Linked DNA regions of Homo sapiens. The protein of the gene in region 2 interacts with the protein of the main gene of each other region in a biochemical or structural test. Each region holds a gene or a part of one and is shown on either strand. Other genes may lie near its edges.

The links. Proteins that work in one complex are often made in the same cells at the same time.
Region 1: the proteins of CRB2 (region 2) and RHPN1 interact in a test that uses a peptide from one of them, tested with the Homo sapiens proteins (one large-scale study listed by IntAct).

Annotation. Positions count from the first base shown.
Region 1 is NC_000008.11:143,375,224-143,378,981, forward strand, and holds part of RHPN1 (rhophilin-1), read left to right. Parts: intron 1-329; coding exon 330-445; intron 446-1,301; coding exon 1,302-1,430; intron 1,431-2,156; coding exon 2,157-2,232; intron 2,233-3,045; coding exon 3,046-3,123; intron 3,124-3,472; coding exon 3,473-3,597; intron 3,598-3,688; coding exon 3,689-3,758. UniProt on the Homo sapiens protein: Has no enzymatic activity. May serve as a target for Rho, and interact with some cytoskeletal component upon Rho binding or relay a Rho signal to other molecules.
Region 2 is NC_000009.12:123,358,995-123,362,752, reverse strand, and holds part of CRB2 (protein crumbs homolog 2 precursor), read right to left. Parts: intron 1-3,758. UniProt on the Homo sapiens protein: Apical polarity protein that plays a central role during the epithelial-to-mesenchymal transition (EMT) at gastrulation, when newly specified mesodermal cells move inside the embryo.

The sequences.
Region 1 (3,758 bases), on a different chromosome or scaffold from region 2:
AGCCCCTACTTGTCCAGGCTGCCTGGTGAGACCCTGGCTTCTGGTGTCCTTGGCAGGTGCCAGCCTCCCCCGCTGACCCCCATCACGAGTCAGCAGCTTACCCCACCGACCACGTCCTTCTGCATTGACTGCCTCCTGTCCTGCTCTGGCCAGGCCTGTGTTCACACTAGTTCTGTCCAGCCCCTCCCTGTGAGGCCAGCTCCAGCCCCAGCGCATGGTGACCATCCCGTTACCCATGGGCAGGATGCACTCCTCTCAGTGGCTGGCGAGGCGCAGCCTGGTGCGGGCGCCACGGGGTCGGGCTGTGATCGCCTGTGGCCTCCCTGCAGGGCTGTGACTCCCTGACGCAGATCCAGTGCGGCCAGCTGCAGAGCCGCAGGGCCCAGATTCACCAGCAGATTGACAAGGAGCTGCAGATGCGGACGGGCGCTGAGAACCTCTACAGGTCAGTGCTTGAGACTGCCCGGCCCCGGGAGCAGGGCCCACCTGGGTGAGGGGGGCAGGACAGCCACGCAGGCAGATGTCTGCCCCATGGCCGGGTCACAGAGACAGGTGCATGAGCAGCTGGGTCCTGGTGGGCACGTAGTACACGTGATGCTCAGCCATGACCCTCACAGACCTGCCTCCGTGGGCCTCTGTGCTGGGCTGGAGGTGCCAGGAAACCAGTGTCCCTGCCGGGTGTGCAGCTTGGGAAGCCCCAACAGTGCACGTGGGGGCTTCTCAGAAGAGGCATGGTTGAGGCTGAGCTGTGGCAGGTGATGGCGCGTCCCAAGGTTGGGGACCTGGGAGGGGGTGGAAGACCTGGGCTGCCTCTTCCTTAGAGCACACCGCCTGTGTGCCACACATGTGCGTGTGAGTGCCCCTCGGTCCCCTTAGCACCTGCTACCTCCCTGCCCCCATCCTGGCCTTCCCTGGGGACCTCCGGTCCCTTTGCCAGGCCCTGATGCAGGCACAGAGAGGTGTGTGGCTCTCACCCACCATCCAAGGAGTGATGTTTGAGTGCTGTCGAGGGCTGTATGAGCCCCAAAGAAAGCCGTGGTGCTGAGGGAGGTGCCCCCAGGCCAGAGTCGGAACATGCAGGTGCTGGGGTCGGGGTGATGAACTGTAGGGGGCATCACCTGTGAGCCCCCGGATCCCACTGCTGCCCCTGCCCCACCCATGGGGGGCAGACCCTGTCAGCGACGTCCTCTGCAGGGTGGGCTTGGAGCTTTGACAGGTCAGCTGGCAGGACGGCTGCAGTGGGCACGGGGCCTTTGGCTCTGCCTTGGGGCTGGGCTTTCAACTGCCGCGGCCTCCCTCAGAGCCACCAGCAACAACCGGGTGAGAGAGACGGTCGCCCTGGAGCTGAGCTACGTCAACTCCAACCTGCAGCTGCTGAAGGAGGAGCTGGAGGAGCTCAGCGGTGGCGTGGACCCTGGCCGGCATGGGAGGTGCGGGTGGGGGCCGGGACAGCACGTGCGTGTATGTGTGTGCACGTGTGCGTGTGTGTGTGCATGTGTGTGCACGCATGTGTGTCTCTGTGTGTATATGTGTGCATTGTCTGTGTGTGTGCGTGTGTGCATGTGTGTGCATGCATGTCTGTGCGCGTGTGTCTGTGTGCATGTGTCTGTGCATCTCTGTGTGTGTGCGTGTGTCTCTGTGTGTATATGTGTGTGCATGTGTGTGCATGCGTCTGTGTGCGCGTGTGTCTGTGTGTCTGCATGTGTCTGTGTGTGCATCTCTGTGCGTGTGTCTGTGTGCACGTGTCTGCGTGCGTGTGCATGTCTGCGTGTATGTGGGTGTGTGTTTGCCTCTATGTGTGCGTGTATGCACGTGTGTCTGTGTGTGTCTGTGTGTGCGCGTGTGTGTGTCTGCACGTGTGTGCATATATGTGTGTGCGTGCGCATGTGTGTCTGCATGTGTATGCACGCATGTGTTTGTGTGTGTGTGTGCGCGCGCATGTGTGTGTCTCTGTGTGTGTGTGTTTGCTTTTGGGGCGGTTTAGGACGGTGGGGGGTGGTGCACAGGTGCAAGGATGCCCCCCAGGACACAGGCGCACGTGCACACCCATGAGGGAGGGAGGCACCCTGTGCCACAGAGCCCTAGGAGTGGACCCCGGGCTGCCGTGGGCAGCAGGGTTTGGCCTTACAGTCTGAAGTCGATGCTTCTGGTTACAGCGAAGCTGTCACTGTCCCCATGATCCCCCTGGGCCTGAAGGAGACCAAGGAGCTGGACTGGTCTACACCGCTGAAGGTAGGTACTGGCCTCCAAGCTCTGAGATACACGGCCCTGCCCTGGGACCAAGGGGGTCTTGGAGGCTTTCTGGTCCAGCTGTCTGGTTGAACAGATAGGGAAACTGAGGCCCAGAGGGAGGGAGGCTTAAAAGGGACGCAAGGGACCTGGCAGAAATGGCCACAGGGACCCAGCCTCTGCTGCGTTCAGGGCCCCGCTGGTGCCTGCGCCCCAGGCCGGGGCTGATCCCATAGAGTGGGTGTGAACATGTGCCCTACCCTCGGATGGGCAATGCCCTAGGAGGATGGGGCCTGGAAGCCCCAGCCGGAGCACAGGGTACAGGCTCGCCCATGGAGGGCACCACTGGCTTGGGGCCACACACCCAGCACTGGCTCACGAGGGTCCTGGGGAGAGCTAGAACAGACTGGCACTGCCTGGCAGGGCCCCACGGGAGCCACTGACTGTGTTCCGTGTCCGAGTCACTGAGTGGCAGATGGCACCTGCCTCCCGGCCACGGGGATGAATAAGGAAACGCACGTAAAAGTAGCGCTGAGTCTCCAGGCCCCGCTTCTGTGATGGGGTGGGGAAACCCCAGGGCCACAGGGGCTCCGACCCGCATCAACCCACCAGGCCCCTCCATACACATTGGCCCCCAGCCCTTCTCTGGGGCTTCCACTGAGGGGCCCAGGGCCCCCACGCTGCATGGCAGCCAGCCTGCTCTGCGGCACAGACCCTCCCTCCACCATGAGTCTTTTCCCAAGGTGGGTTGGGAGACCTCAGGGAAGGAGGCCAGGCACAGGGGTACTGTGGATGCCAACACCTGCCCCCCATCAGGAGCTGATCTCAGTGCACTTTGGAGAGGACGGCGCCTCCTACGAGGCAGAAATCAGGGAGCTGGAGGCCCTGCGGCAGGTGTGTGGTTCCCCCGCCCACCCACCCTCCTGCAGCCCTGGGAGACACATGCGGAGGCTGAAGCTGAAGTCAGGAACAGACAGAGGAGCTCAGCGTAGACATCTCGAGGACGTGGGGAGACGGGCGCACCAGGGGCCCTGTGTGTCCAGACCCAGCCAGGGGGCGTGGAGGGGCTCCCAGGTGGCTCCGGTGCCGCATGCTGCTGGCCTTCGGGAGTCACGGCTGCCCAGGGCCCCACTGGCTTTGCCTCCCCGCCCCCCATGGTGCTGGTGCCCATGGGACTTCCCAGGGCAGTGTGTGTGAGTGGGGTGGGCCAGGGCGGTGGGGCCCAGTGGCTCCTGCCCTGCAGGCCATGCGGACCCCCAGCCGGAATGAGTCGGGCCTGGAGCTGCTCACAGCCTATTACAACCAGCTGTGCTTCCTGGATGCGCGCTTCCTCACCCCTGCCAGGAGCCTCGGGCTCTTCTTCCACTGGTAGGGGCTCTGCGGGCGGAGGCACCCTGGGGAGGGGAGGCCCAGCTGCGGGAACCGTGGGAACTCCACCCAGCCTGACCCAACACTGCAGGTACGACTCGCTTACTGGGGTCCCGGCCCAGCAGCGTGCCCTGGCCTTCGAGAAGGGCAGCGTTCTCTTC
Region 2 (3,758 bases):
CACAGTATGGACAGAGGGCCAGGGGTCTGCAAGCCAGGTCCCAGTAAGCTGCACACATCTGCACCCAGAACTGGGAACGGTTTTAGGAGAGCCTATATAGCAGAGAAACAGCACCAAGGATGTCTGGCTTCTGGGCAGGATTAGTGAGCAGAGGTTCCCTGAGCCCCGTGAGCTTCCCTCCACTGTCTTGTCCCTGCAGTCCCCCTTTGAGGCAGTATCCGTCATGCCCATTGCACCAGACAGCAAAAGGAGGCCCAGGAAAGAAAGTGAAGGCTTGCTGAGCCTGCCCAGCCCTGTCCACTTCACACAGCAAGTTAGTGTTCGCTGGGACAGGCTTCAAGGTCTATCTGGATTATTTCAGCTCCACCTGGGGAGGGGTCTCCCTCCTGCAGGCCCCATCCATCCAAGGAGGCCCCAGAGGGTGAGGCTCCTCCCACTGCCCCCTCCACCTCTTCTGCCAGGGGTCTGGTAACTCCATCCCTGGGTGAAACTGGAGATGGGCCCGACCTCAACCTCTGGAGGATGGGTGGACAACTTCAAAAGCAGGGATCGTGTGCTCCGCTGGTCTCATTCCTACCCCTTCTCCACATCACTACCCACCCCCTGCCAGCCACTGGCCTAGGAACTTCTAGAGGGTCCCTGGCCCTAATTTCATCCCCCATCAGCAAACACCTGAGTGGCCGGCCTGGCCAAGGTCGCATGGTACAGAGCAGGTATTGAGATGGCTCACGGACACCTGCCCCTGGCCACCATGATGCTTCCAGCACCGGGGCTCTAACAGAGGGTCACCAACCGGCTTGGAAGCCACGCCCAGAGATCCTCATCCCCCTTCCTCTCCTCCTGCCTTCCTGAGAGCCTTGTCACCACAATGCCCAGGTGAGAACTTGAGCTTTGAAGTGAAACAGACCTGGGTTCAATTTCAGCTCAGAAAGTTCCTAGCTATGAGACCCTGGGTAAGTCATTTCTCCTACAGAGCCTCCGTTTCCCAGTCTGAAAATTAGATCATAAAAGAATCCCCTCATCAAATGCTGAACTATTCAGCTCCCCAGCACCGCAGTCAAGGGCTGCTTTTGGTAACAACTCGGTAAGGGATGGGGGAGGAGAGCCTCCAGAAGACACAGCCTCCATTCCTCCCCCCACCCCCATCCGGAGCTCCCAAAGGTGCCCCTCCCCCACCCAGGTTGTCATCTAGACACTCACCAGACCCCAGAACAGCTCAGACCCTGCACCCTTCCCTCCCCCACTCTGGTGAAGCCCCCCAGATAAGGCTGGCAGCCTCTCAGGCGTCATCCGCATTCCAGGCAGGGCTGTCCTGTGGCCTGACCCGCATCCTTCCAGCTCCCCCAGGAAAGGGCACAGGTTTGGGGCATCGGGCAGTCCTGGTTTGTATCTGGGGTGCAAAAAGTGCCCATCTCATGGAGGTGTTGAAAGGATTCACCAAGGTGATGCAGGGCACAGCCCTGGGACTGGGTGTGGCCAGCACTGCTCAGGAGGGTGCAGCACTCATAACCCATGGTAAAGGGCCCCGGCTGCCAGCGCCTGTGCCAACAGGTCCCTCACTTAATTCCCACAGAGCACTGTCCCTCACCTGTGCAGTGCAAGGAACCCCCCCCCCTCCCCGCCCATCCAATCTGAAGCTTTGCCCCCTATCTCAGAGCAGCTGGGACCACGCTGGGGAGGCAGCACCGGGGAAAGGATCCTGGGGGGCGGGGGAGGTGCCTTGTCACAAGGGATCTTCCCAGGACCATGGGAGCAGATGGGCTCTAAATGACAGAGCCCGGGAGACAGAGTCCAACCCCATGGGAGGAAGGAATTTCTCCAGTCAGAGCCAGGCAGGAAGGGAAGGAGCTGCCCGTCCTGGGAGGCATGCAATAGTGCCACAGTCCTGCCTGGGAGGGACAGCCATCTTTCATGTGTCATCTCAGTTGATCTTGGCATTTACCTCCGAGGTGGATAGGATTATGATGCCTGTTTTACAGCTCAGGAAAGGGAGACTCGAAGCAGCCTCACAGTCCACAGCCCAAGGGAGGCTGGAATCCAAACCCAGGGCCTCACTCCAAGCTTCCCGGAATCACGGGCCCACATTAAGAATACAGATTCCTGGAACCCACTCCAGACCCCAAATTTAGAACCACTGGGCCCTGAGCCTGAGAATCTGCATCGCAACCTGCTCCTGGGGGATTCCTTTCACTTTTAGGTGTGGGAACCGCTGACCTCAGGTTGTCTCTGTCTTCCAGGAGTGAGCCTAGGAGGCCACGATAGCCCAGGCCAGACAGGAGAGGCAAGGAGGGGCGGGGTGTGGAGGGCAGCAGGGCGGAGGAGGGGCTGTCCCCCCTTCCCGGGCCAGGCTGGAGGGGCGGGGCCTGTTGCCAGGGCAACGAGGGGCCTGTGCTTATCTTTACAAATCCCTCCTGACCTCAGGCTGCCTGGGCCGACCTGGCAGGGAGGGATTAACCGACGCCCGCCCCTCCCCTTCGACCTGCTGCCCTGTCCTGGGGAGGGGCAGGAGGACCCAGCTGTTTACTGAGTGTGTACTATGTGCTTGGGCCTGTGCATCTATTATTACATTGTTATACTTGATTCAGACCAGAAAAGGTGGGTGCCATTAAGAAAATTTCTGTTTTTGTAACTCAGAGAGGTTGATAATTTTGCCCAGGTTGAGACGAAGAATCAGATCAGCTCCTGATTTCCCAGAGGTCCACATCTCCCAATGCATGTGAAATTTTCACTTTACAAACCCTAAATTGCCACTCACATATTGTTGCTTTAGTACATTACAGCTGCCTCACCCAGGAAAAAAAAAAAATCTCTAAAGGTTTTCACAGGAATACAGCTTCCAATATCAGCCTGGGCAGAGCAGGCAATCTTCCCCGTCTATCCAGAACCCAGCTGTCAGTAATCCCACTGTGTCTCAGGCCTCACTCATTAGTAACTCCTACTTTTCATGCACTTAGAATGGGCCTGTTTATAACAGCCAACAACTGATGAGAAGTGTTTTACTGAAGCCAGGTGCAGTGGCTCACACCTGTAATCCCAGCACTTTGGGAAGCTGAGGTGGGAGGATCACTTCAGGCCAGGAGCTCAAGACCAGCCTGTGCAAACATAGTGAGACGCTGGCTCTATGAAAACAAAACGAAATAAGCCAAGCATGGGGTGGGTCCCTGTAGTCCCAGCTGCTTGGGAGGCTGAGGTGGGAGGATGGCTTGAGCCCAGGGTGTCGAGGCTACAGTGGGCTATGATTTTGCCACTGCACTGCAGCCAGGGCAACAGGGTGAGACCCTTTCTTAAAAAAAAAAAAAAAAAAAAAAAAACAAAACAAAAACGAAAAACCACAAACAAAAAAAGAAGCATTTACTGGGGAAGCTTCCTGTCCCAACAAATCAAGAGACAGAATATTTCTAAGAAGCGACCTAAGATCTCATAAGGTGTGGGAACTTCTAGCATAGGGGAAGAAATTGTTCATCTAATATCCCTGGGCCCCAAGGCTCTACCCTACAAGGGTAGGGCTGAATAACCATGGAGGCTTGCAGACACTCACTCAGTCATCAGGAAAGGGTGAAATTCTCTTTTGGGCAGAATAATTTGGCATACTCTTTTTCAAAAATGTTTACCTTCTGAGGTTAAAAGACATAATTTTGATAACAGTAATTGCAACAATAGCTGTCAGGGACGGAGCACCTACCCTGTGCCTGGCACTGACCAACCCTTGAGAGTTTGGGCTCAGAGCACAGTTCCAGGGAGTTACCTCCTGAAGTGAG